Homo sapiens: one gene and its partners. The protein of the gene in region 1 purifies or fractionates together with the protein of each later gene. This does not show direct contact. Each region holds a gene or a part of one and is shown in the gene's direction. Other genes may lie near its edges.

Evidence for each region.
Region 2: the proteins of KCNC4 (region 1) and DNAJB4 purify together in Homo sapiens (affinity purification with mass spectrometry; 2 studies listed by BioGRID and IntAct, with this or other methods). This does not show direct contact.
Region 3: the proteins of KCNC4 (region 1) and NUS1 purify together in Homo sapiens (affinity purification with mass spectrometry; 2 studies listed by BioGRID and IntAct, with this or other methods). This does not show direct contact.
Region 4: the proteins of KCNC4 (region 1) and RNF215 purify together in Homo sapiens (affinity purification with mass spectrometry; 2 studies listed by BioGRID and IntAct, with this or other methods). This does not show direct contact.

Annotation. Positions count from the first base shown.
Region 1 is NC_000001.11:110,205,897-110,213,346, forward strand, and holds the start of KCNC4 (voltage-gated potassium channel KCNC4), read left to right. Parts: upstream 1-4,417; 5' UTR 4,418-5,603; coding exon 5,604-6,281; intron 6,282-7,450. UniProt on the Homo sapiens protein: Voltage-gated potassium channel that opens in response to the voltage difference across the membrane, forming a potassium-selective channel through which potassium ions pass in accordance with their electrochemical gradient.
Region 2 is NC_000001.11:78,014,939-78,018,464, forward strand, and holds the end of DNAJB4 (dnaJ homolog subfamily B member 4), read left to right. Parts: intron 1-1,075; coding exon 1,076-1,309; 3' UTR 1,310-3,026; downstream 3,027-3,526. UniProt on the Homo sapiens protein: Probable chaperone. Stimulates ATP hydrolysis and the folding of unfolded proteins mediated by HSPA1A/B (in vitro).
Region 3 is NC_000006.12:117,671,141-117,678,469, forward strand, and holds the start of NUS1 (dehydrodolichyl diphosphate synthase complex subunit NUS1), read left to right. Parts: upstream 1-4,328; 5' UTR 4,329-4,530; coding exon 4,531-4,945; intron 4,946-7,329. UniProt on the Homo sapiens protein: With DHDDS, forms the dehydrodolichyl diphosphate synthase (DDS) complex, an essential component of the dolichol monophosphate (Dol-P) biosynthetic machinery.
Region 4 is NC_000022.11:30,384,374-30,391,236, reverse strand, and holds the start of RNF215 (RING finger protein 215 precursor), read left to right. Parts: upstream 1-3,825; 5' UTR 3,826-3,923; coding exon 3,924-4,208; intron 4,209-4,477; coding exon 4,478-4,621; intron 4,622-5,095; coding exon 5,096-5,167; intron 5,168-5,247; coding exon 5,248-5,333; intron 5,334-6,741; coding exon 6,742-6,863.

The DNA of each region.
Region 1 (7,450 bases):
AATCTGACTTGGGCATCTCCCTTCCTGGCACACTCACTGGTGCCAGGCACGCTGCTGCATTCTTTAATTACATCATCTTAGGTGGGAAGAAACCTTGAGATGGGAGAAGACTATGCCTGTCATTCAACCACAAACCCTTACAAAGATTGATCCATGCCAGGCACAGTCCTGGCTGCAGAGCATAAAGACTCAGTGGGGATCTGCTCTCTGTCCCTGGGTCTGAGCTGCCTGGGTTCTGGGTCCCTCCATTCTGCCCAGGGCTGACCCAAGCAGGGAAGAATCCCTGGACTTCAGGAGCACCCAAGAGGAACCTGAGTTTGGCCTGTCTCTCCAGACACCTGCTTCCCCTTTCCCCAGGATATTGCTGGAGGGGACTGGGCCCATCAGGACTAATTAACTCCTCTAATGGAATGAACCAGTTTTTCCTGGAACTTAGCCCAGGTGGGAGCAATCTCTACTTTTCTAGATGGAGAAATGCTAAGTGTCAAGAGGTCTTGCCAGCCGGACCCTGGGCTAGCGTGCATGTGGCAGGCGCGGTGGCGGGAGTGTGCTGTCTGGATGCAGGCTGAGTTCCCAGCCCAGGAGCCTTAAACAAGGAGGCCTCTAGGGTCCACTCAGCTGGTGGCCCCCGTATCGTTCTCTGTCCTTGGCCCAACACCAGCCCTAGCTCCGTCTCTCAGAGTTCGCTGCTGCTGCTTAGGCCTGACATCCCTAAGCGGGGGGAAGGTGTCCATGAGCTAACACTCAGGTCCCCTCCAACCCTATGACTCCAGGTCCATAGTGTATGAGGCCCTGAGCCCTGCCCAGGCCCGAGCTTCTGATCTCTTCTCTTTAAGAGCTGGGCCTTCAAAGGCCACCTTTGAGCCCCAGATACAACTTCACTGGGATTACCACAGCAACCCAACCCTGCTTTCAGTCCTGAGGCAGAGCCATTCTACTGATCTTCACAAGACCTGAATTACTAGGGCTAGGTTCTCCCCAGAGCCCCTCCCCCACCAACCCCCCTCCCCCCAAAGAAGGCTCTCACATTTGATTTGGAGCCTGCAAGTCTCTGCAGGCTGCTTGGGGTTGGGGGAGGCAGGATGAAGTGAGCTGAGACGCAGACAGGAGGCTGCCAGCCTGCTCTTGCCTTCCCTTCTCTTGTTCCCCCATGAGCGGGGAGGCCCTATCACCCTCTAATGAGTCTGATAAAGCAATTCAATTTTCCAGGCTGGGAGAGAGTGAGGCATGCTGGGAAAGGATGCTGGCTCCTTGGCCTGGACCTGAAGGAGGGTCAGTCCCTGGCAGGAGCTAGAATACCAAAAAGGGAAAGTGTGAGCACCAATGGATAGAACCTTGCCTTGGCCTGGAGCCCCTCACCACAAACAGGTTTCAAAGAAGGAAGATGGAGAGGAGATTGGATGGCTCCAGTCATCCTAAAGAGGCTGAGCCCATACAAAGCTCCCAGTGGGGAAAGGGGAAGGGTAAACGGCTTTGATTTCAGGCTTTCAGCTTCCTACGGACAGGGTCAGCGTCGGCACTCAGAGGGTGAGGACCTTATTATGCGGGTGGAGGGGGGGCCTGGAAAGGGTGCAGGTGCTTGACAGCCTCCATCGGTGCCCCTTTAGAATCTCCCATGGCCCTCTCTTCCTATTCTTTCACCACACCCTCACCCCTGATGAGGGAAACCCGCTGTGGCTGACACCTTCTGTGAACTGGCTTTCAGACAGGTGCTCTTCCCTGACAGCCTGAAGAAGCCAGGGCACTAAGGAGAGGACAAAAGAGAAAAGGTGAAAATGAGGGAAAGAAGCTTGGGGAACTAGGAATTTCCAATAGTGGCTGCTTTGTGGTCTTGCTTAAGCCTGTCAGGTATCAAGGTCTTGGAGGAATGAAGAAGGGAGGGAGTAGGCAGAGTCCCAATGGCAGAGTTAGGCTAGAAGATGTACCTGAGGTCCTGGAATCAACAGGAAGCCCAGAATCAGCTGCCACCCCATCTGCCCACATCACAGCCCCCAGAGCTCAGGGCGAGGTCTGGAGCCAGGATGTTCTAGCACCACCAGAGGGCAGCACCCTCACATCCATGGTAGGCTGTGTCACAGTAGCCTGGGCAGGGGGCTCTCCTATCCTTCCCCGGCTCTGTGTTTTGAGGGAACACCAAGACCTCACACAAAGAAATGATGGGGACAAGTCCCATAGTGCTAACTGCAGCATATCGACTCCCTCAGAGAGGTACACGTAACAGGTGAGCCCAGAGTTCTAGAATAAACCTTCAGCAAGGGTGAGGCATTCTCTGGAGGCCTCAGGACTGAGGCTGAGCTCCCCTCTCCCGAGCTGGTCAGTGCACAGAGCTGGGAGTCCTGGCCCCATGCACCTTTACCCAGCTGCCTCTCTCAGGCTGGGCCCTCTGTTTTTGTCAGCTCTTCCTAGGTTCCTATGCCTGTGTCCCAACTTTCTGATCTTCCTCCCTTCCCTCTTGGCCTCCTTTTTCCCTGGCAGCTTTCTCCCTTTACCCATCTCCCCAGGTGCTCATCACTATCCACAAGCACCGCAGAGTGGAAGCACCAGTTGGGCAGATTTACTAGGATGAGTGGCTGTTTTATTCACTGATGTATTTCCAGTACCCGGAACTGCTTCTGGCATATCGTAGGTATTCAATAAGTGTTCATTGAGTTAATAAGTCAATCAGGGGTGGGATACTATGGGTTTTGTCCCCTTGCCTACTACACTCCCTTTGTTACAATTACTGAGCTCAGTCATCCTGATGAACGGAAAGCAGGGGAGAGACCCCAAGGGACTTTGCCAGGACACGGACCAGATAGGACTTGAAAGTTATTCATTACATTAATATTCTGTGGTTCTTTCTTCCTCACTCCAGTTTCTGGCCTGTCCCGGGTCTTCTCTTCCCAGTCACACTTGGGATATTTCTTTTCACTGCAGCAAACTCAAAGACAGCTAAACTCTGAAATACAAACATCAGTTTCGAGGAGCAGGGACTGGGCACAAAGGGGGTGCCAGTAAATGTGTGTTTCTGATTAACTCACCTCCCCTGCGTGTCAGTACAGATCATCAAAGATCATTGTCATTTTGGTTTTCTGGCCTCATTAATAATGAGACTTTTGCTTGTAAAAATCCCTTGCATTGGCACTGAGCTTTTAACCTTTCCTGAGACACACATAGGCCCTTGTCTTGTTTTTCTCAGTTGAGCTAGGTACTGCCTGATCTGGAACTGGGAAGGTGCACAGGTGTCCAGGGCAGGTGTGTCATTCACCTTTCATTTCTGCCTCAAGATCTCTTTACATCATCCAGACAGGCATGGAGGCTGCCTGAAGCTGTAAAAAAGAAAAAAAAACCCAATGGGGATTAATATGAAGATGTAAAATAGGTTCTGGACTTAACAAAAACAAATGAATCTGGAAATTGCTCTTGGGATAGGGCCAGTAAAGTCCTGTTGGTGCCTACGTTTTGGGTATGGCAGCTTCTCAATCACTTAGCAAACAGGTTCTCAGAGGCAGGCACTGTGGGAGCTATCAAGATGAAAAAGCACAATGCCGCCTGCAGGAGCTCAGGGTTAGGGAGGGGAGAGGAGACATATACACAGGCAAAGTCAAATTGTAATGGGTAGAATAAGAGTAGAAACAGGAAGGGGTCATGAGGCAGGACACGGGCATTTCCTATGTGGACCCCAGAGCAATGACGAGCAAAGGCTTTAACTAATGACTTTTCAGGGCCACCCACCCACTCCACATCCATAAAACATTTCGCGATGAACACAGCCAGAGCTACGGTTTCCTTCCATCCGGCACAAGAAGCGCTTCTCTGCCCAAGGCCACCCCGTCCTCCATTCCATCGCGGGGACTTTGGTGGCTGGGACAGAGGCGGAGAGCATCAAGACCATGGGTGTCTTGGGCTACGTTGGGCCTCCGAGGCGCAGGATGCGGGGCGGGGTGGTCAGAAGGCCCCAACACGGTCCCTGGGAAAGGAGAGGGCAGCCTGATCCTCGCGACAGCGTCTCTACCCTCTTTCTTCCTTGGCCTTCCGTCAGCCGCAGTGAAACGGCAACAGTGCGACCAGCTTGGCGGGGAGGGGGCGAGGGACGAAGCAAGAAGAGCCGGGCGGAGGTTAGAGGTCAGGGGTCGAGAGCGCTTCGGTGTCAGCGGGCTGCGGTGGGAGGAGCTGCGGGCCCGGGGGAGGCGCGGAGCAGGGCTGAGGGGGGCGGGAGGGGTTGCCGGCGGAAGCGCGCAGGGGCGGCGCGCTGGGCTGGGCACTGGCGGCGAGGAGGTGACGCGCTTGGTTGGGGCTCGGCTCCGGGGAGGAAGACTGCGCTCGGTCGCCAGGGCCTGCAGTGAGTCGGATCGGCCCCGCGCTGCGCCGCGCCCCGCCCACCCCGCCCCGCGAAGGGCGCGTCTGGGCGAGGCGGGGCCCCGGAGGAAAAGGCGCCACTGGGGCGTGGCGGCCGCTGCCAGCGCCGGAGGGAGACCATGAGCCCCTAGGGCCCCAGCCCACCGGCGCCGAGGCGCCCCCTCCCCTATGCCACCTCGCGCCCGCCCCCTGCCGCGCGCGAGCCAAGGCCGGCGCCCCGCCCGGAGATGGGCAGACGCGTAGATGGCGTGGCTCCCAGCGCCGCCAGATCGCAGGAACCAGGCGCCGGGGCGTTGCGCTGAGGCTCCCTCTCCGCGCGGCCCGGGAAGCCTGCAGGTGTCCTTGGCCGCTCGGCCGCCGCCCCCGGTACACCTTCGCCAGTGCCCAGAGCCCGGCTCCCCAGAGCGGCCCCGCCCCCCAGGCTCGGCGCCGCGCAGGACGCCCCGTCTGAGGCACCCCCGCCCCAGCGCGGCCCCCGCAGCGCTGCGCCCGGTCCGGCGCAGCTCCCAGCCGCGGACGCAGGACCCGAGGCTCGCTCCTGCGGGCGCGCTTGTTTTCCAGCTGCCGCCTCGCCCTGCGCAGCCCCCGCCCGCCCGGCCGCCGCTCTCTGCTCTGCCCCGCCTGCCTTCCTCGCCCGGCGCTGGATTTATGAATGGGGGGAAGAGGCCACATGCCGCCGCCGCCGCCTCGTGTTGACCGCAAGCAGCCCGGGCCCACGGAGCTCCGGCTGCCGTGAGAGTGTCGGCCTGGCCCCGGCAGCCGCTCGGAGGACTTGTTGCTGCTGCGCTGCCGCCGCTGCGGGGAAGCCGGCTATTCCGGGGCTTGGTGCGGTCTTGGAGCCGGAGGGTGGCCCGTGTGAGCGCGAGCGCCCCGGACCTTCGCGGTGCGCGTGGACTGTGCGCTTCCTCGTCTTTGGTCGGGGTGAAGGCGGGGGCGTGTCCCCGGCCCAGAGCGTTTGTGTGTCCCGTCGTAGCGGGGGACCGCGTGTGTGCTTGCTTCTACTTCCCCGGGTCCTCCCTCTCTGCGCCTCCCTCTCTCCGGAGCTTCCTGCCCTAACCCCAACCACCTGTGTACCGGAGAAATCCAACTCCTCCCGCTCCGCGTCCTAGGGGGATAGGCAGGGGCAAGCCCAAGCCGCAGAGGGGGCCGCCACCGCCTCCTGCCTCCTCTTCGTCTCCTCCCCCTCCCCCGTCTGACGCTGCCTCCTCGGGAAGGGTGTTTGGAGGGCAGCGGCCGCCCCAAGCCGGAGCCCCGCAGCGCTTCTTATGATCAGCTCGGTGTGTGTCTCCTCCTACCGCGGGCGCAAGTCGGGGAACAAGCCTCCGTCCAAAACATGTCTGAAGGAGGAGATGGCCAAGGGCGAGGCGTCGGAGAAGATCATCATCAACGTGGGCGGCACGCGACATGAGACCTACCGCAGCACCCTGCGCACCCTACCGGGAACCCGCCTCGCCTGGCTGGCCGACCCCGACGGCGGGGGCCGGCCCGAGACCGATGGCGGCGGTGTGGGTAGCAGCGGCAGCAGCGGCGGCGGGGGCTGCGAGTTCTTCTTCGACAGGCACCCGGGCGTCTTCGCCTACGTGCTCAACTACTACCGCACCGGCAAGCTGCACTGCCCCGCGGACGTGTGCGGGCCGCTCTTCGAAGAGGAGCTCACCTTCTGGGGCATCGACGAGACCGACGTGGAACCCTGCTGCTGGATGACCTACCGGCAGCACCGCGACGCCGAGGAGGCGCTCGACATCTTCGAGAGCCCGGACGGAGGCGGCAGCGGCGCGGGGCCCAGCGACGAGGCCGGCGACGATGAGCGGGAGCTGGCCCTGCAGCGACTGGGCCCCCACGAGGGAGGCGCGGGCCATGGCGCCGGGTCTGGGGGCTGCCGCGGCTGGCAGCCCCGCATGTGGGCGCTCTTCGAGGATCCCTACTCCTCCCGGGCCGCTAGGGTGAGTGGCAGGAGCCCGTGTCTCCCCATCTTGGGTCTGCAAGGGGTCCGTGGTGGGTGGTGGGTAGGGGCCGGGAGGAGCAGGGACCGAGCCTGACTTACCTTACCACCGCAGATTGTTCCCGCCTTCCTCTCAACCCCCCTCCGTGGCTCGCAGGGGAATTACACACTCCCACCCTCTCCCCTGCACGCTCCATCAGGAGATTGCACACACTTGACTTACTACTTGGACCCAGTCCCAGCTGCCTGCTTTGCCGCATCCCCTCCAGTGAGTGGGGTGCCCAGCTCAGCTCCTCCACCCCCTTCTTTGGTCTGCACAGGCTGCCCTATCTTCAGCTGCCCTCCACTCCACACAGGACTACGGTCCTGGAAGAGCTGGAATTTGGTCTTCTGATGGGGGCAGGCAGGGTTGAGAGGAAGGAAACTAGGGTGGGTTTTGTTAGATGCTTCCATGCCGTGCCACCTCATTTACATCCTCCCAGCAGCTCAGTGTGCTCACAACTATGCACTTCAGAGAGGAGGATATAGGCTTCAGCATCTTAAGCTCAGAAGAGGCAAAGCTGAGACCACAATCCGGCCTCCTTTCCAGGTTTAAGAAAGGCATTCTTTCTGCCAGGGAGGATACCATGCCCCTGAGGCTTCCTGCACACCTGGGATGTCCTGGCCTCAGCTGGGGTGAGAGGAGAATTAAACACGAAGGGCCTAGCGTTCTAGGCTCTGCAGGCTCCCACGGCCAGTGGCCAGCCACAGGCTTCCTGGTGATGATACCAGATTTTTGTTGCCGCTTCTTTTCTTTCTGCTGCAGCACAAACTGTCTTTCCAGAAAGCCCTGGTTCAGGTTACTGCTTGAAATGGGTGTATGAGGGAAGGGGGAAGCACAGGTTGATTTAGGCAAGACCTACCGCCTCCTCCCCAAGTAAATCCAGTTTCCCTAACTCCTTTAGGTGAAAGGGGAGAACGGGGGAGGTGCTTCCCCCATTATGCTTCGACAGCTAAAAAAAAAAAAAAAAAAAAAAAAAAATCCCTGAAGGATGGCTTTAGATTCTTTAAAGAAAGAAAACTCTGGGGGCTGGTGTCGGATCTCATGGTCAGCAGCCTAAAGCCTGGCTGGAGTCTGTCTGGGAGACAGGAAAGAGCAATGTAACTTGTTGGGTCTGGGGACTGCTGCTT
Region 2 (3,526 bases), about 32 Mb from region 1:
CTCTATGGAACACTATTGTTTCTTACCCTGCTCTAATACCTACCTGCTACTGCCCAATGCTTAGTTCAAGCATCCTCTACTCCCGGAATCTAAGGGGTTAAGTTGGGTGCTCTTTCTCTTACAAAAGACCTCCATGCTTACCTCTGTTCTTACACTATACAGTATTATAATGGCTAGTTTGCTTCTATGTTTCTGTGAGTTCCTTGTGCATTCCTTGAGCTGGGGTCTGTGTTCATGGTCCCTATAAGGCTCACCATCTAGCCAGAATGTGTGGCATATAGTAAATGCTCAGTAAACATTTGTTATCTAAAACAAATATATTTCTTGTCCTAATACTTTCCAGAGAAATAGTTGCTCCTATCCAGTTCTTTCTAGTCCTGAATTTCTCCCTCTTCTCCCATTCCAATCCCTGCATCTTGAATATATTAATAGCAGCTTCAAAATAACCATGTCATTCCAGGGCAATGTGGAATATATCCTTTACTTCTCTTTTACCTTTTCTTTTCTTCTTCTTTTTTTTTTTTTTTTGTAACATATCTAATAATGCATGTCCTGAAGGAATTTTCCTTTTTTTCTTTTCTTTTCTTTTTCTTTTTCTTTCTTTCTTTCTTCTTTTTTTTTTTTTTTTTTGAGACAGTTTTGCTCTTGTTGCCCAGGCTGGAGTGCAATGGCACGATCTCGGCTCACTGCAACCTCCGCCTGCTGAGTTCAAGTGATTCTCCTGCCTCAGCTTCCCGAGTAGCTGGGATTACAGGCATGTGCCACCACGCTCGCCTAATTTTGTATTTTTAGTAGAGACAAGATTTCTCCATGTTGGTGAGGCTGGTCTTGAACTCCTGACCTCAGGTGATCTGCCCGCCTTGGCCTCCCAAAATGTTGAGATTACAGGTGTGAGCCACCGTGCCTGACCTCTGAAGGAATTTTCTAATGAGGAAAAAAAATTTATAACTATTGTTATTCTTTTGGAGGTTAAAGTTTTACCTTAGTGGTATTATCCTTTACCATCTGGTAAAATTTGTGCTTAGATTTTTGAGTTTTGAAGTGTTTTCATTTTATTTTATTTGGTCCATTTTAGGCATTGTGTGGCTGCTCAATTAATGTACCAACACTGGATGGAAGAAACATACCTATGTCAGTAAATGATATTGTGAAACCCGGAATGAGGAGAAGAATTATTGGATATGGGCTGCCATTTCCAAAAAATCCTGACCAACGTGGTGACCTTCTAATAGAATTTGAGGTGTCCTTCCCAGATACTATATCTTCTTCATCCAAAGAAGTACTTAGGAAACATCTTCCTGCCTCATAGAATGAAGAACTTTGTTACACATATTTTGATAAGGCACTGAAAATATAAAAGGACTGGTAGTTTACTGATGTAGATGTGAATTCTGTATAAAGATGTGTAAATTCTTTTGAGGGTTCATTAAATTGCATGAATAGAGACGGGTCAAATAAATAGGCAAAAGGGATTTTTACAGTTAGAGATAAAAGAGAAAACCATTCACTGTATTTTATTTCATTTCTCCTGATTCAGATATTTTTAGTAATTTGCTTATATGTAAAAGTTGTTTTTGTGGAGTCAGTGGATATATTTCTAATGAAGTGCTAGACTATCCAATTACTTAATTTCTTATACCTTTAGATAATCAGTATGAAAAGTTCCCATTTATAATGGAAATGAAAATTCTTAACTAAACTATACATGTAATATGTATTTCTAGAAGAGAATAAAAACCCAAGTCAGTTATTAGATTTAAATCACCTTCTGAAATGCTGCTATAGGGCTGGTATCTGTAAAAGAATATCCTGATGCATCTGTTTCACCATTTTGATTTTTAAAGTATGCTGTAGCATTTCTTAATAACATCGTTGTGATGTTCTTAAGGCAGATCTTTCTTCATAAAAAGGAAAGTAATGGCAATTTCTCTCCTGTGGAAATCCCAATTGCTTGAATTACTGATATTTTAGAATAGACTTTTTAAAATGCCATATGTAATTTTATGCAAGTTGACTATATATCTTGTACTTAATAAATTATAGGCTCATTTTGTTCTCTGCTAGTTTAAAGTAATTCGTTTAATAATAGATGTGTTTTTAGAGGAAATGCTGTTACTTGGAATTAATTTTCCAGTTATACAGTCTTCTATAACTTACTAATAATATTCTATATGTACTTTATGTAATTTCCCTAAAAAGAATGAACTACCACTACACTATGGTGTTAAACCAAAATATAGGGAAAATAAACACTAACTGCTGCTTATGGATAATGTTGCAACTACTTGTTATGCATATAAATATTTTACTTTTTCACATGTATAGATTGCATTTCTTAGGTGTTTTAATTTTTTAAATATATTTATGTTTTAAAAATTTAGTTTTGTTTTCTGTTTTATAACTATAGTGAGAATGATGTTTTGAAGCAAAATTTTTGGTTATAAAATAGTTTTCAGGATTATATATATATATACTGGATCCTATCGCCTTTTAGTAGAATATGAAATATTCTTTTAGAAATCCAATATAAATAGGTTATAATAGCCATATTCTTTATTACTTTATTGAGATATAATTTACATGCCATAAAGTTTACCCTTAAAATATATAATTCAGTGGTTTTTAGTGATATTTACAAAGTGGTACAATCATCATCACTTTCTAATTCCAGAATATTTTCATCACCCCAAAAAGAAATCCTAAATCCATTAGCAGTTACTTCCCATTCTTCCCTTCCTCCAGCCCCTGAAAACACTACCATCTACTTTTCATCTGTATGGATTTGTCTGTTCTGGACATTTCACATAAATAGACTCAAACAATATATGGCTTTTTTTTTTTTTGGTCTGGCCTCTTTCATTTAGCTTAATGTTTTCAAGGTTCATCTATGTTGTATCACGTATCAGTACTTTATTTTTTGTGTGGCACGTCATATGGATATACCACAATTTGTTTATCTTTTCATTAATTATGGGCATTTGGCTTATTTCTACTTTTTTGGCTATTATAAATAATGCTGCTGTGAACATTTGTGTGCAAGTTTTTGTGTTTCAATTCTCATGGGTATATACCTAAAAGTGGAATTTCTGGGAGTAACCATATATTTGAGTTGCAAATGGAAAATGCTTGAAAAAAATGCCACAGAATTCAGCTAATCGTATTTATTACTCTAATTCATAAATGATTCCTCTATAACTGTCTCTCTGAATGACAGTTAAAACTCCCTACAGAAGTGTGAACATTACAGAAATTTTCTCACAAGTCTAAAGATCTAGATCTGAAAAGCATCAGTCAACGTGGTGAATGATAGTGGTTTCTGTTTTAAACCCATCATTATTTATTGCAATTTTCTTGATTAAGCATTTTCTCCCAGGTAAAATAAATGATTTATAGATAGATATATAATAATCTTTGGATTAAAAAGTTTTTTTAAGCAGAGAATTATTATTCTAGTAGTAAATAAATTTACATAACTACACAAAACCAGTATACCAGTATCTCTCTTATCTTAAAGGATATTGACAAT
Region 3 (7,329 bases), on another chromosome or scaffold:
TCTGCAAAAGATACTGCCAAGAGAATGAGAAGACCAGCCACAGACTGGGAGAAAATACTTGCAAAAGACATATCTGATAAAGGACTATTATCCAAAATGTACAAAGAACTCTTAAAACTCAACAATGAGAAAACAAACGACCTCATTTTAAAATGGGGTTTTAACAGAAATGAACAGACACCTCAACAAAGAAGATGGACAGATGGCAAATAAGCATACAGAAAGATACCAACATCATAAATCATTAGGGAATTGCAAATTCAAACAATGAAATACTGCTATACGCCTATTAGAACAGCCAAAATTCAAAACACTACAACTGAAATCCAAAACACTAACAACACAAAATGCTGGCAAGGATGTGGAACAATATGAACTCATTTGTTGCTGGTGGAAATGCAAAATAGTATAGACACTTTGGAAGACATTTTGGCAGTTTCTTGCAAAACTGAACACACTCTCGCTGTATGATTCAGCAATTGTGGTCCTTGGTATTTTTTTTCTTTTTTTTTCAGAGATGGGGTCTCACTCTGTCACCGAGGCAGGAATCCAGTGGTGTGATCTCAGCTCACTGCAACCTCAACCTCCCGGGCTCAAGCAATCCTCCCACCTCAGCCTCCCAAGTAGCTGGGACCACAGGCACATGCCACCATGCCCAGCTAATTTTTTGTATTTTTGGTAGAGTCAGGTTTTCACCATGTTGCCCAGGCTGGTCTCAAATTCCTGAGCTCAAGCGCTCAGTCTGCTTTGGCCTCCCAAAGTGCTGGGATTATAGGAGTCAGCCATGCCTGGCCTTCTCCTTGGTACTTATCCAAATAAGTTGAAAACCTATATCTACACAAAACCTGCACATTGATATTTATAGCAGTTTTATTTATAATTGCTAAAACTTGGAAGCCACCAAGTTGTCCTTCAGTAGGTGAACAGATAAATTCTGTGGTACATCAGCAATGGAATGTGGTACATCCAGCAATGGGATATTATTCAGCACTAAAAAGAAATGAGGTATGAAATCATGAAAAGACATGGACAAGCTTAAATGCATATTAGTAAGTGACATAAGGCAATAAGAAAAGGCTACATACTGTGTGATTCCAACTGTGTAACATTCTGGAAAAGGTAAAACTATGGAGACAGTAAAAGTAGCAGTGGTCGTAAGGATTAAGATAATGTAAAGCATTTTGTAAACTGAAAAGTAAATGAAATACCATCCCCATAGTGTTTTGGGCTTAAGAGTCTGAGGCTGGATAACTCTTTCTGTATTTTCCTGTGCTTCATAAAATTTTGGGGTGGAAGGTTAAATGGTATTTAAGAAATCCAAACATTATATTCAGAACCCCTAAGTTCCTAAATGTGCCACATTTACTGCTTTTTTGAAATGACAAAAGAAGAAAATCTTTAGAAGAGAGAGAACTCCATAAACTTAAGATTCCAAGTATGTCCAGAGCAAGACATCCAGTGTGGCTTTCCTGTTATTCCAGAATTGTGGCTGAGAACAAAAGGCACTGAGTCCACCTCCTTCTAAGAACAGTGAAGCAGCCTGAAGTTGACAGCAACCACCAGATGCAAAGCAGGTTCACTGTGCACTGGTTACCGGTTCAGCCCACTGCATTTTGGACTGCACTTTTCCTATATCCAGTGTCCAGTGACGCAGAACACTCACACACAAGTTACACGAAGTGGGTTTATTACTTACAGACAGGCAGCAAGGGACAACAGAAGCATGTCATAATGACCATATCTCCCAAGGCCGAGGAAAACTTCTTAGGGAGGATGGCGTCTCATCTGCTCGTGCACTGCTTGCACCGCAACTAAGGGACCCCAGAAAGCAGTCTGCTCTCAGTTTTTACTACAGGGCAATGGGATGTGCTGGGCTAGTACTAGTTGAAGGACATCCTATTTCTAGAAGAGACTGGAACAGAGCCTGGGCTGTTCTGGTCAGTTCCTCCTTGTCTATAGTATATTGCATTCCAACACATTCTACAGTTATTCTCGAGAACTACAAGTGAGAAAAGGGGAAGAACTGTGTTGGTTCAAGGCCCCCAGAGAACTGTTCTGTATGAGACCCTCCATCCCTAGCCTACTGACAGCTGACAGAGAAGAAAAGTGGGTACCGCCGCCCCACCACTCTTTAGGAGGCTGAACATCCTGGGAGCTAGGGGACCTGCTACTAGGAGGAAACTCTAGGAGGAAAGCAAGCAAATGTCTGGGGAGAGACGCCAGGATCTGCATGTGAGTGTGTCAGATGGACATGTGGCTAGAATCCTTTTGCTTAAGTTTGCAATTCAAAGAAATACAGGGGCCGGACGCAGTGGCTCACGCCTGTAATCCCAGCACTTTGGGAGGCCAAGGCGGGCGGATCACCTGAGGTCAGGAGTTCAAGACCAACATGGTGAAACCCCGCCTCTACTAAAAACACACAAAAAATTAGCCGGGCGTAGTGGCGGGCACCTGTAGTCCCAGCTATTCGGGAGGCTGAGGCAGGAGAACGGCGTGAACCCGGGAGGCGGAGCCTGCAGTGAGCTGAGATCGCACCACTGCCCTCCAGCCTGGGCGACTGAGCGAGACTCCGTTTCAAAAAAAAAGGAAAAAAGAAATACAGAAGATAGAGCCTGTTTGTGCCTGCACACCTGAGAGCAGGCCACGGGAACATGAGATTGATGTCTTTAATCTTGTCAGAACGGATAGACATTGGGGCAAAGAAATGAGTACGGTAGAGAAATGTGGCAACATAGTCGGCATGGGGGGTGGGGTGGGGTCTGCAGAATACGTGGCCAAATCTCAATGGGACACTGGTGTCTAGGGAGCTTCCTTAACAAGCATCATGTAGCTGCATAAACTACAGCAATGGGCAGTGAGGAAGAAGACTGTAGGCTTCCCTGATCATGGCCTTTCGCCTCTCCTTCTTTGTCCATCATCAGAGGAGCTACCGCAGAGGAGACCTGGAGAGAAAGAAGTGTGTGAAGGGTGTGCCTGGTGCCCAGCCCTCAGTTCTTCAGGCTGCACTGCCAAAGGGAGGAAAATTGCACTGCGAAAGGGAGATGGACATGAGATTCAACTTTTAAAGTAAAGTTAAATGAGTCTTAGAAACCAAAATGAGACTAGTTGAAAAAGTGACAATGTTAGAAAAATTAAGTCACATAGCCAAGACGTGAACAGATGTTTCCCAGGGGGAAAAAGAGGCTTTAGCGAACAAAGAATAGGTAGGTATTACAAAAACGCAACTGTTTACACACACACACGTGTGTAAATATGTGTGTATACGTGTGTATGTGTACAGTTGCATTTTTGTAATACCTCCCTAATCTTTATATATATACTTATATAAATATAAATGCAAATAATATAAATATTATTGTTGCACACACACATATATATGATGATAGAGGATGTAGCATGTAGGATAAACCTTGAGAAATGGGTTGGAATGTCGGCAATACCAAGTCGGGAATCAGGAATTCAGGAGAAGAGCTTGAACAAAAAGGGCAAAGACAGTACAGACTTACCGCGGGGAAGTACAAAACCATTCTAGAGGACCACGTCGAAGTCCACATGGACAGAAACATTAGGGTGTTAAAGGGGATGATAAGGCTTGGATGGGCAGTTTGCTTCAAATAGTGGCGGTCATTGAAGTCAGGCACAATTTCTATTTTTTTTCCCCACTGTAAACCTAACCCACGGCGGTTGGTCAAAGTCTTGCCGAATAAAAAAAAAAAAAAAAAAAAAGAATTAAGTGACTGGACTGCCAAGCTGTAGAGCCTCTATTAAGCAATGTACAGCCAGGAAAGGATACCTTAGATGAGAATGACATGGGTAGAGGGGTGTTTCAGGAACATGGCTAAAGAGCCTCGCTCCCAGCCTCAGCCGGGAGGCTGAATAAAGGACAGTAGCAGGATCACTCCAGCCTTTGAGGACACTTTTGGAAACCCTGGTGGATTCCCAGCATCAACACTTACTGAGGGCTGCTTTCCATCCCTAGGTTCTTTCCGGCATTTGTAATTTCCAATCCACTTAGGACACTTCTACTCCTCAGAAACCGTTTCTGTCGGGGCCGTGAGAGGAGACAGTATAAGACTTCCTGGACCCAAGGGACGCCGGGTCCCCTGGAAGCGCCCATCGCATTGAAGACCACGTGTGCCTTGCTGGGGTCCCATTCAGACAAGTCCCGGGTCGTTCGCTCATCGCCCTCCACGCGACCAGGGGGCGCCCGCGGTATCGGCCCGGCTAGTTCGCAGGCGTGCGCCTTCCCTCACTGCGCCGGAACGGGCCACGTTCTCGGACCCAGAAGCCGCGTCAGAATTCCACGCTGGCCAATCGGAACTGTCCATGTACTACTGGGGGCGGGGCTGCCAAGGGAGGAGGAAGATGGCGGCGGGGGCGAGGTGAGGTGTTGGCAGTGGAAAGGGGTTCGGGCTCGGGGGGCGGGGGGACGCGGAGCGATGGCCCGCGCCGGCCGCAGGGGCGGATAAAAAGCCGTCGCGCTGCGGGAGTGGGCGGGAGGGAGAGGGGGTGTCTGAGGGCCACAAGAGTATGACGGGGCTGTACGAGCTGGTGTGGCGGGTGCTGCACGCGCTGCTCTGTCTGCACCGCACGCTCACCTCCTGGCTCCGCGTTCGGTTCGGCACCTGGAACTGGATCTGGCGGCGCTGCTGCCGCGCCGCCTCTGCCGCGGTCCTAGCGCCGCTCGGCTTCACGCTCCGCAAGCCCCCGGCAGTCGGCAGGAACCGCCGTCACCACCGGCACCCGCGCGGGGGGTCGTGCCTGGCAGCCGCACACCACCGGATGCGCTGGCGCGCGGACGGTCGTTCCTTGGAGAAGCTGCCTGTGCATATGGGCCTGGTGATCACCGAGGTGGAGCAGGAACCCAGCTTCTCGGACATCGCGAGCCTCGTGGTGTGGTGTATGGCCGTGGGCATCTCCTACATTAGCGTCTACGACCACCAAGGTGAGGCCCGGTGCGGTGGTGGGGGGTGGCCGAGGCGTCTTGGACCGCTAGACCGCTGGTCTGGCGGGTGGTGCCCATGGCACGAGTTGCCGCGGCCTCTCTGCAAATCACAGCGCTAGCGCTTTCGAGGAAGGGAGATCAGCTTTATTGAACACCTACTAATTCTCTGGATTTGACTCAGTAGCTTTTTAACATTTTAAAAATATCCCTTGGCCGGGCGCGGTGGCTCATGCCTGTAATCCCAGCACTTTGGGAGGCCGAGGCGGACGGATCACCTGAGGTCGGGAGTTCGAGACCAGCCTGACTAACATGGAGAAACCCCGTTTCTACTAAAAATACAAGTTTAGTCGGGCGTGGTGGCATATGCCTGTAATCCCAGCTACTAGGGAGGCTGAGGCAGGAGAATCGCTGGAACCCGGGAGGCGGAGGTTGTGGTGAGCCGAGATCGCGCCACTGCACTCCAGCCTGGGCAACAAGAGCGAAACTCTGTCTCAAATAAGTAAATAAATAAATAAAAATAAATAAAAAATCTCTTATTCGTTATAATACTGCAGTAATGTAGATGGTATTTGTATACCCTTGCCAAGGTTTAAAAACATTAACTGATTTGCCCAAGGCCACAAGATCGTAATGGGGCCACAAAGATCGGAATGAGGATATTGGAATTTTAGCCATTCTGTGCTTTTTCACAATCTTTGCCTTTGGTTACACCACACTGTTTCTTTAAGAGAGCTTCCAGGCGCTGTTCTTAAGTCGCAGTGAGGCTATAGAGGACTTAGGCATGGGCTGTGTGATAGGTACTGCAAATGGGAGCGGTGGGGGTCAGGTGGTATTTGAACTGGGTTTATGAAAAATATGTGAGAGATTGGATAGGCAGAAAAGAAAATGGTCCCTTTCTGTCTTGGAAGGCTGGGATGGTTTGTGATCCTTCATCATCAGTGCCCAACACAGTACTTGATAGAATTGTCCTCTCATATGTTTTGATTGAGGGAATGAATTTCACCATAGGGAGTTTTTGTAAGTACAAAAATTCAGTACTTATTGGGTAGCTACAAACCTAAAGCACTGTGCTAGGCATATTCCTTGGAATCTTGCATTTAATTCCATGGACTCTCAGGCTTGTTAGGAGGTAGGCACACACTCACATATTTGACATGGTTAATAACAAGAAGTGTTGAGAGTAAAATTACTATTGTGAGAAGAGAGGAGAGAAATTGTGAATGAAGGAACTTGAGAAGTTCATGCAGTGGAGGTGGGATTTAAGCAGGACCTTGAAGAATAGGTAGGAGATAAGTTGAGGAATACTCAGGTTTGGGATGTCAGGTTTGATTTTCAATCAGATCTTGAAAGCATTGGAATTTCTTTAAAGATGTGAGAAGAATGATTTAAGAGTATTGGTATGAAGGGAAGAAAACAAAAGTTTTATTCTCTGTTCAATAAATTACCTGTGTGCTCTAGAGAGGCATACATCTTTGTCAGATTGGTAAATTTAAGTGCAGGGTTTTGTCAGAAAGGGAAGGCATAGGCCAGACAGTAACGCTTACAGGCTGATCTCTGATTGCCCTATCATCTTTCCTGCAGCCCGCAAGGAACATGATGACGCAGTAGCCTGTCATCACCAAATGATGATTTGCCCTATAGGGTAAAGTTTGATATATTCAGAGACTGACATTTATGGAACTTGCTAAAGAACTCAGCAGACCAATAGAAATCATGAGACTGTTAGGAGATGACACAATCCATGCCTAAACCAATGCAACCAGTTTTGCTTGGGGAAAAAAATAGGTGAAGCAAAAGTGGACATAAAGGCATTAAGCAACGTGGTGGATTGATGTACAGCCAGGTGATTCTTTTAAAGCAAGTATCTTTATCTTCCAGTAGGGAAGGAAAATGTATAGCTAAATTGTTTGACTTGATGACCGTGCCTACTAGTACAGACTATAATGTTGCCACATTTCCTTGTTTCTGCAAGTCCTGTGTTTAAATTGCTGATGTGATTCAGAAGTATCCTGTGTCATAGTTGCTAAAAGAAAAATGATTAGTAATTAAAAGGAAGAAGTAAGCTAAGCCAAGTTTTGGCTGAGAACTGAAAGGCACCTTAAGGAGCATTTTCAGTGAAAGGGCTTACAGGATTTTGTATCTTAACTGTAAAATCAGTTTTTTTGTTTGTTTTTTTTAAAAGAATAAGAAATATTCCTGAAATAAGAGACCTTCAATTAGTCCATTCTTGGTTTTGATTCGTTCATACATTCATTTACAGGTGACAGTTGGGGTCTGTTAAGTACCAGATACTCTTCCAGACATGGGAATGCAGCAGTGTACTCATGGAACTTAGATTTCAGTGGGAGTCTGACAAATAATATACGTGGGTAAATATGTGGTAA
Region 4 (6,863 bases), on another chromosome or scaffold:
GTGGGGCCCAGGTTCATGCTCACTGGAATAGACACATATTCTAGATGTGGATTTGCCTTCCCTGCCCTTCATCCTTCTGCCAGCACCACCATCTGTGTACTCACGGAATGCCTTTTTTTTGGCATTTGCACAGCCTGGTGTGTGACCAAATAACTCATTTCACAGCAAAGGAAGAGAAGCAGAGGGCTCAGGTTCACGGAATTCAAGGGCCTTGTCATACACCCCATTCCTGGTACCAATTCTAAAACATTTCATCCTCATCACCACCCCCTTCCACTGCTGAGGTAACATATTCCATGCCTCACACTTTCATTAGTAGCTTTGTTTCTTCCTAGGTCCCCCTGCAACTTTACAGAATAAGGAGAGACAGAGGAATTGGGGCCTTCTCCATGCAGGTCTCTGCCCAGCCCAGGGCCAGGAAACCTTGTATCCCAAGAAACAAGCTACTTGGAATCACAGCATGTCTGATGAAAGGCCCTCCCAAGTCATTTAGTCCAAGCTCCCATTTTACAACTGAGGACACAGGCCAAGAAAACGGAAGTGGCTTGCCCAGAGGCCCATGGTGAGAGAGTGACAGTCCTGTCCGCTCTAGCTCCCCACCCTCTCTTGGGAGTTTGGATCTGCGGGTTGGGCTACTCCAGAGAGAGCCCACAGGGCTGAGGGTCCTGTTGTCCATCCCTGGGAGCAGGGTGCCTGCATGTCTCTTAGCTGGCATCCCTTCCCCCGCTTCTGGGGTCCTCCAGTCCCCTTCTCCTCAGATACTCCACTCCCAGGCAGGGCCTCAAGGTCACTCGTCTCCTTGCAGTCAATCTCCCACCCTTGGCTGCCTCACTTCCTGGGCTTACACTGCACTCTGCCCCCCGCCAGCATTGGCTCCAATCTTTACTGTTTCTTTACCCACCCCCTAACCCTCCTCACCCCAAAGCAGCAGAAGGCCCCTGGCTGGGCTGAGCTACACCCACCCACGTTGAGGTAACATCCTCCAGCTCTTGTTCCTTCTGCGATAACCAGGGGTTACCCCATGGAAGAACACACCACAGGGAACTGGTTACCCACCAAGTTTGCAAGGGGGCTCCGGCTCCCACTGATGGAAGGCTAGGATGTGGATATTTGTAGGGAAGCAGAACTGTGTTCTAGGTGGGGGACAAGCGTGAACAAGGACCTGCATCTGGTTGGAGTGTGTATGTTGAGGGGTGACTAGGTCAGTGGGGTGAAGGGTAGGGAGAAAGTGGGGACAGGGCAGGCAGAACATGGAGCCAAAGACCTGGCTGATTACAGGGTGCATCCTTGCAACCCTGTTGTTGGGGCTGACAGATGGGCTGGGACAGTCACAGAAATGGAGAAGCAAGCCTCTTCACGGGCACCACGGGGCTTCCACAGTGCATTTTGTAGCTTATGAAGAGTGCTTTCCCACATATGAAAAAACGTTAGTAACATATCCAATTAGTGATCCTTTATCCTTGGGCGATACATTCCAAGATCCTCAGTGGATGCCGGAAACCTCAGGTAGTGCTGAAAACATACTGTGTTTCTTCAATCTGATAACTCTGAGGCCTACTAAGTGACTAACAGGTGGTAACATTTACAGCGTGGGGAGGATTCATATCCAGGGAGGGATGGAGAGGAAGGGCAAGAGATTTCATCATGCTACTCAGAACAGCATGCAATTTAAAACTTATGAACTGTTTATTTCTGGAATTTTCCATTTAATATTTTTTTGGACCTCGGTTGGCTGAAGGTAACTAAAACCTCAGGTAAGGGGAGACTACTATAGACCAATGGAACAGAACAGAGAATCTAGCTACGTGCAGTGGCTATTGCCTGTAAGCCCAGCACTTTGGGAGGCTGAGGCAGGCAGTTCCCTTGAGCCCAGGAGTTCAAGACCAGCGTGGGCAACATGGTGAAACCCTGTCTCTACAAAAAAAAAAAAAAAAAAAAAAAAAATTAGCTGGGCATGGTGACACACCCCTGTGGTCTCAGCTACTTTGGAGGCTGAGGTGGGAGAATCAGTTGACCCTGGAGGTTGCAATGAGCTGAGAAGGCACCATTGCATTCCAGCCTGGGCAACAGAGAGAGACCCTGTCTCAAAAATAAATGCATAAATAATTTTTTAATGCTTAAACTTTTACTTTTCTTATTTAGGTCTTTAATCTATATGGAATTCATATTTTGTATATGATGTGTATGTAATAGGGGTCTAATTTCTTCTCCTAATGGTTAATTCAATTTCTTAGCACAATTTACCAAACAGTCCATGCTACTGCCTCCTTGTATCTCCACAAACACAATGTTTCCTCTGATGTACACCATCTTTAGATGTGTGGGTCAGTTTCTGGCCTATTTCATGTTCCATTTGTCTGTCTTTAGGCTGATATCGGGGGCTGTCTTATATACCCGTCTCACACTTCTTCAGGAGCAACTTGGTCATCCCATATCAGTGTTCCTACAGGTGTTCACTGTAAAATTCTTTCAATTTTTCTGGAGAAAAAAGAGTGTTGTGGCTCATCTGGCCCAGGTTGGAGTGCAGTGGCACCATCTCAGGTCACTGCAAGCTCCGCCTCCCGGGTTCACGCCATTCTGCTGCCTCAGCCTCCCGAGTAGCTGGGACTACAGGCGCCTCCCAACATGCCCGGCTATTTTTTTGCATTTTTAGTAGAGACGGGGTTTCACCTTGTTAGCCACGATGGTTTCGATCTGCTAACCTCATGATCCGCCTGCCTCAGCCTCCCAAAGTGCTGGGATTACAGGCGTGACCCACCGCGCCCTGCCCACCATACAATTTTTAAAGGCTCAGGTTTCAGACTGAGCCAGCTCCCAGCAGCCCCAACCCTTGGAGAAACGGACAAGTTTTAGAACAGTAGTGGAACTTCCACATTCCAGTAGACATTTGAGTTATTTGCTGGGGGTGAGGCAGTGTTGATTGTACATGGTGCTTATTTATTTATTTATTTATTTAGAGACGGAGTTTCACTCTTGTCGCCCAGGCTGGATTCCAATGGCGCGATCTCGGCTCGCCGCAACCTCCGCCTCCCGGGTTCAAGCGATTCTCCTGCCTCAGCCTCCTGAGTAGCTGGAATTACAGGCATGCGCCACCACGCCCGGCTAATTTTGTATTTTTAGTAGAGACGGGGTTTCTCCATGTTGGTCAGGCGGGTCTCGAACTCCCGACCTCAGGTGATCCGCCCGCCTCGGCCTCCCAAAGTGCTGGGATTACAGGCGTGAGCCACCGCGCCCGGCCTATGGTGCCCATTTCACAGATGAGGGAAGTGACCCAGCCTCTCGGTCCCACTGAGGCACTGAGTCCCTGCCTGCTTCGTTTTGCCTTGCCCCCCAGCCCCTTTCCCCTGCCCCTCTATCTCCCCTGTCGGCTTCCCACGCCAGTCTCTGGTTCTCTGCCTCCTGCTGTTTAGTGGGGTCGAGACAGGGAGGACCGGGGAAGAGAGGGATGTGACTTGGCCCTGGCCACCCCGTGGGTCCACGGGGCTGCCGCAGAACAAGGGCCTGCCACCAGGCCCCTTAGACATCCCTTGCTCCTGCCCTTCTCAGGCTCTGATCGTGTCTCTGCTCCCCCAGGTCGCCCTTTCCAACTATTTTCCTGTCTGCCCCGCTGACGCGTCCGCTGCCGAAGCACCTCCTCTCTCTGACTTTCCGCCTTCCCGCTGCGACCCCGGTTTTGCCCCTCTCCAGCTCCCTCAGCCGCGGGCACCTGAGCTCTCCGCGGCCACCAGGGGGCGCCCGCGGCCCAGTCTGGGCGCGAGAGCCGCCAAGCGCCCACTCCGTTCCTCCTGGTGCCCCGCCCCGTCCGGCCGCGGCCCCGCCCCTCCCGGCGCCCCGCCCCGTCCGGCAGCGGCCTCGCTCCCTCCGATCCCCCCCGCGCCCGGGACCCCTGGCCCCACTGTTGGGCCAGCTCGCCGGGTCCGGCCATGGGCCCCGCCGCTCGCCCCGCGCTGAGATCGCCGCCGCCGCCTCCGCCGCCGCCTCCGTCTCCGCTGCTGCTGCTGCTGCCCCTGCTGCCGCTGTGGCTGGGCCTGGCGGGGCCCGGGGCCGCGGCGGACGGCAGCGAGCCGGCGGCCGGGGCGGGGCGGGGCGGAGCCCGCGCCGTGCGGGTGGACGTGAGACTGCCGCGCCAGGACGCTCTGGTCCTGGAGGGCGTCAGGATCGGCTCCGAAGCCGACCCGGCGCCCCTGCTGGGCGGTCGTCTGCTGCTGGTGAGCGCTGCTGAGCCATCTGGCCGCATCACTAAACCCCTCTCTCAACCCTCCCTAGAGACCCCGCACCCTGAACCGACGTTCATCCTCCACCAAGCCTTGAGAGTCCAGCGCCCCTCCCCAGGCTCCCCAGGCCCCCAGCATTCCGGCTTCCCAAACCAGAGAGCCAGATGCTCTGGGAACTCTGGCCTTGGCATCCACTGTGATGACCCCGGCTCCCTCCCCCACCACACCCTACCTCCCTCTGCTCATGGCCCCTTGCCACACAGATGGACATCGTGGATGCCGAGCAGGAGGCACCAGTGGAAGGCTGGATTGCAGTGGCATACGTGGGCAAGGAGCAGGCGGCCCAGTTCCACCAGGAGAATAAGGGCAGTGGCCCGCAGGCCTATCCCAAGGCCCTGGTCCAGCAGGTGCAGGGGATGTCTATGGGGGAGGGGGCTGGAGGAAAGGATTCCAAGGCATCTGCTAGAGCCAGGCCCTCCTTAGATGGGCCCTTAAGAGCTTGCAGAGAAGCCCTAGGCCTGGTGGGTCAGGGCACCCCAGTTTGAAGAATGGAGTCAGTATGGCTTCGAAGCAGGGAGGTGAGAGGAGGCCAGAGAGAGGTTGAGAAGCTTGACCAGGCTCTGAGAGTATGGGATGGGGGAGCTGCTGCTGACGACCACTGCTGGGACTGCCCTGATAGGACCGGGGAAGGCACAGCGCATCTGGAAGGGAGGCAGGAGGAAGAAAGCAGTTTCCACCTTTGACCTCAAGGAGCTTATGGCAGTCTGTCCAGAGTTTTGCTCACTGCAGGGCCAGGAGCTAAGAGCAGCTAGGGCTGCAGGTGGTGAGACAGGTGTGCAGGCAGGGTATATGCTAGCCTCTCGCCTTCTATCCCTCTGCAGATGCGGCGGGCCCTCTTCCTGGGTGCCTCTGCCCTGCTTCTTCTCATCCTGAACCACAACGTGGTCCGAGAGGTAAATCGGACCAGGCCGTGAGGGTAAGCAAGCTGGGGAAAGGGGGACCCAGGCCTGCTGACCTCCTTGTCTCCCTGCAGCTGGACATATCCCAGCTTCTGCTCAGGCCAGTGATCGTCCTCCATTATTCCTCCAATGTCACCAAGCTGTTGGATGCATTGCTGCAGTGAGTTGGTATTTAGACTTCAAAGGACTGACCCTGGGTACAGAGAGCCCCTGGTTCTCCCATGGACTGAGGGGGCTTGGGACCAGGGCCTTACCTGTTAGCCTTTTTTTTTTTTTTTGAGATGGAGTATCACTCGTGTTGCCCAGGCTGGAGTGCAGTGGCGCAATCTCGGCTCACTGGAACCTCTGCCTTCCAGGTTCAAGTGATTCTCCTGCCTCAGTCTCCCAAGTAGCTAGGATCACAGTCATGTGCCACCACACCCAGCTAATTTTTTGTATTTTTAGTAGAGACAGGGTTTCACCATGTTGGCCAGGCTGGTCTTGAACACCTGACCTCAGTTCCACCTGCCTCGGCCTCCCAAAGTGCTGGGATTACAGGCAGGAGCCCCCGTTGCCACTGCTGCTGCTGCTGCCCCTGCTGCCACTGTGGCTGGGCCTGGCAGGGCCCGGCCTAACTGTTAACTTTTTTTTTTTTTTTTTTTTGAGATGGAGTTTCGCTCTGTCACCCAGGCTGGAGTGCAGTGGCGCGATCTCGGCTCTCTGCAAGCTCTGCCTCCCGGGTTCATGCCATTCTCCCACCTCAGCCTCCCAAGTAGCTGGGACTACAGGTGCCCACCACCATGCCCGGCTAATTTTTTTGTATTTTTAGTAGAGACGGGGTTTCACCATGTTAGCCAGGATGGTCTCGATCTGCTGACCTTGTGATCTACTCGTCTCGGCCTCCCAAAGTGCTGGGATTACAGGTGTGAGCCACCGTACCCAGCCAACTGTTAGCTTTAAGACTGCCCTCTCGGCTGGGAATGGTGGCTCATGCCTGTAATCCCAGCACTTTGGTAAGCCAAAGAAGGAGTATCACTTGAGTCCAGGAGTTTGAGACCAGCCTGGGCAACATGGCAAGACTCAGTCTCTACAAAAAAATACAAAAATTAGCTGGGCATGGTGGCACATGCCTGTAGTCCCAGCTAATCAGGAGGCTGAAGTGGGAAGATCACTTGAGCCCCGGGGGTAGAGGCTGCAGTGAGCTGTGACTGTGCCACTGCACTCCAGTCTGGGTGACAAAGGGAGACCCTGTCTCAAAAAAAAAAAAAAGAAAGACTGTCCTGTCCCAGGCTGAAAAATGGGTGAGGGGATGGGAAGGAGGTGCCAGAGCCTGGAGCTTGGAGCAAGGAAGTGGCTCTGTGGGCAGAGAGGACTGGCCCCAGCAAGGAGGAAGATGGACTTGCAGGCTTCCCTGGCCTGGCTGGTGTGAAAATTGGAAAAACCAATAGAGGGAAAAGGCCTGGGGCAAAGTGTAAGGCCAGCAGGGGCGACAGTCGTAGGTATCCTTTTCCTGCAGAGCTGGGGTGGGTGGGTCTGGGCCTCCCTTCCCAAGAGTCCTTCCATCTGGCCCCGGTGACTTCCCCTCCCAGGAGGACCCAGGCCACGGCTGAGATCACCAGCGGAGAGTCCCTGTCTGCCAATATCGAGTGGAAGTTGACCTTGTGGACCACCTGTGGCCTCTCCAAGGATGGCTATGGAGGATGGCAGGACT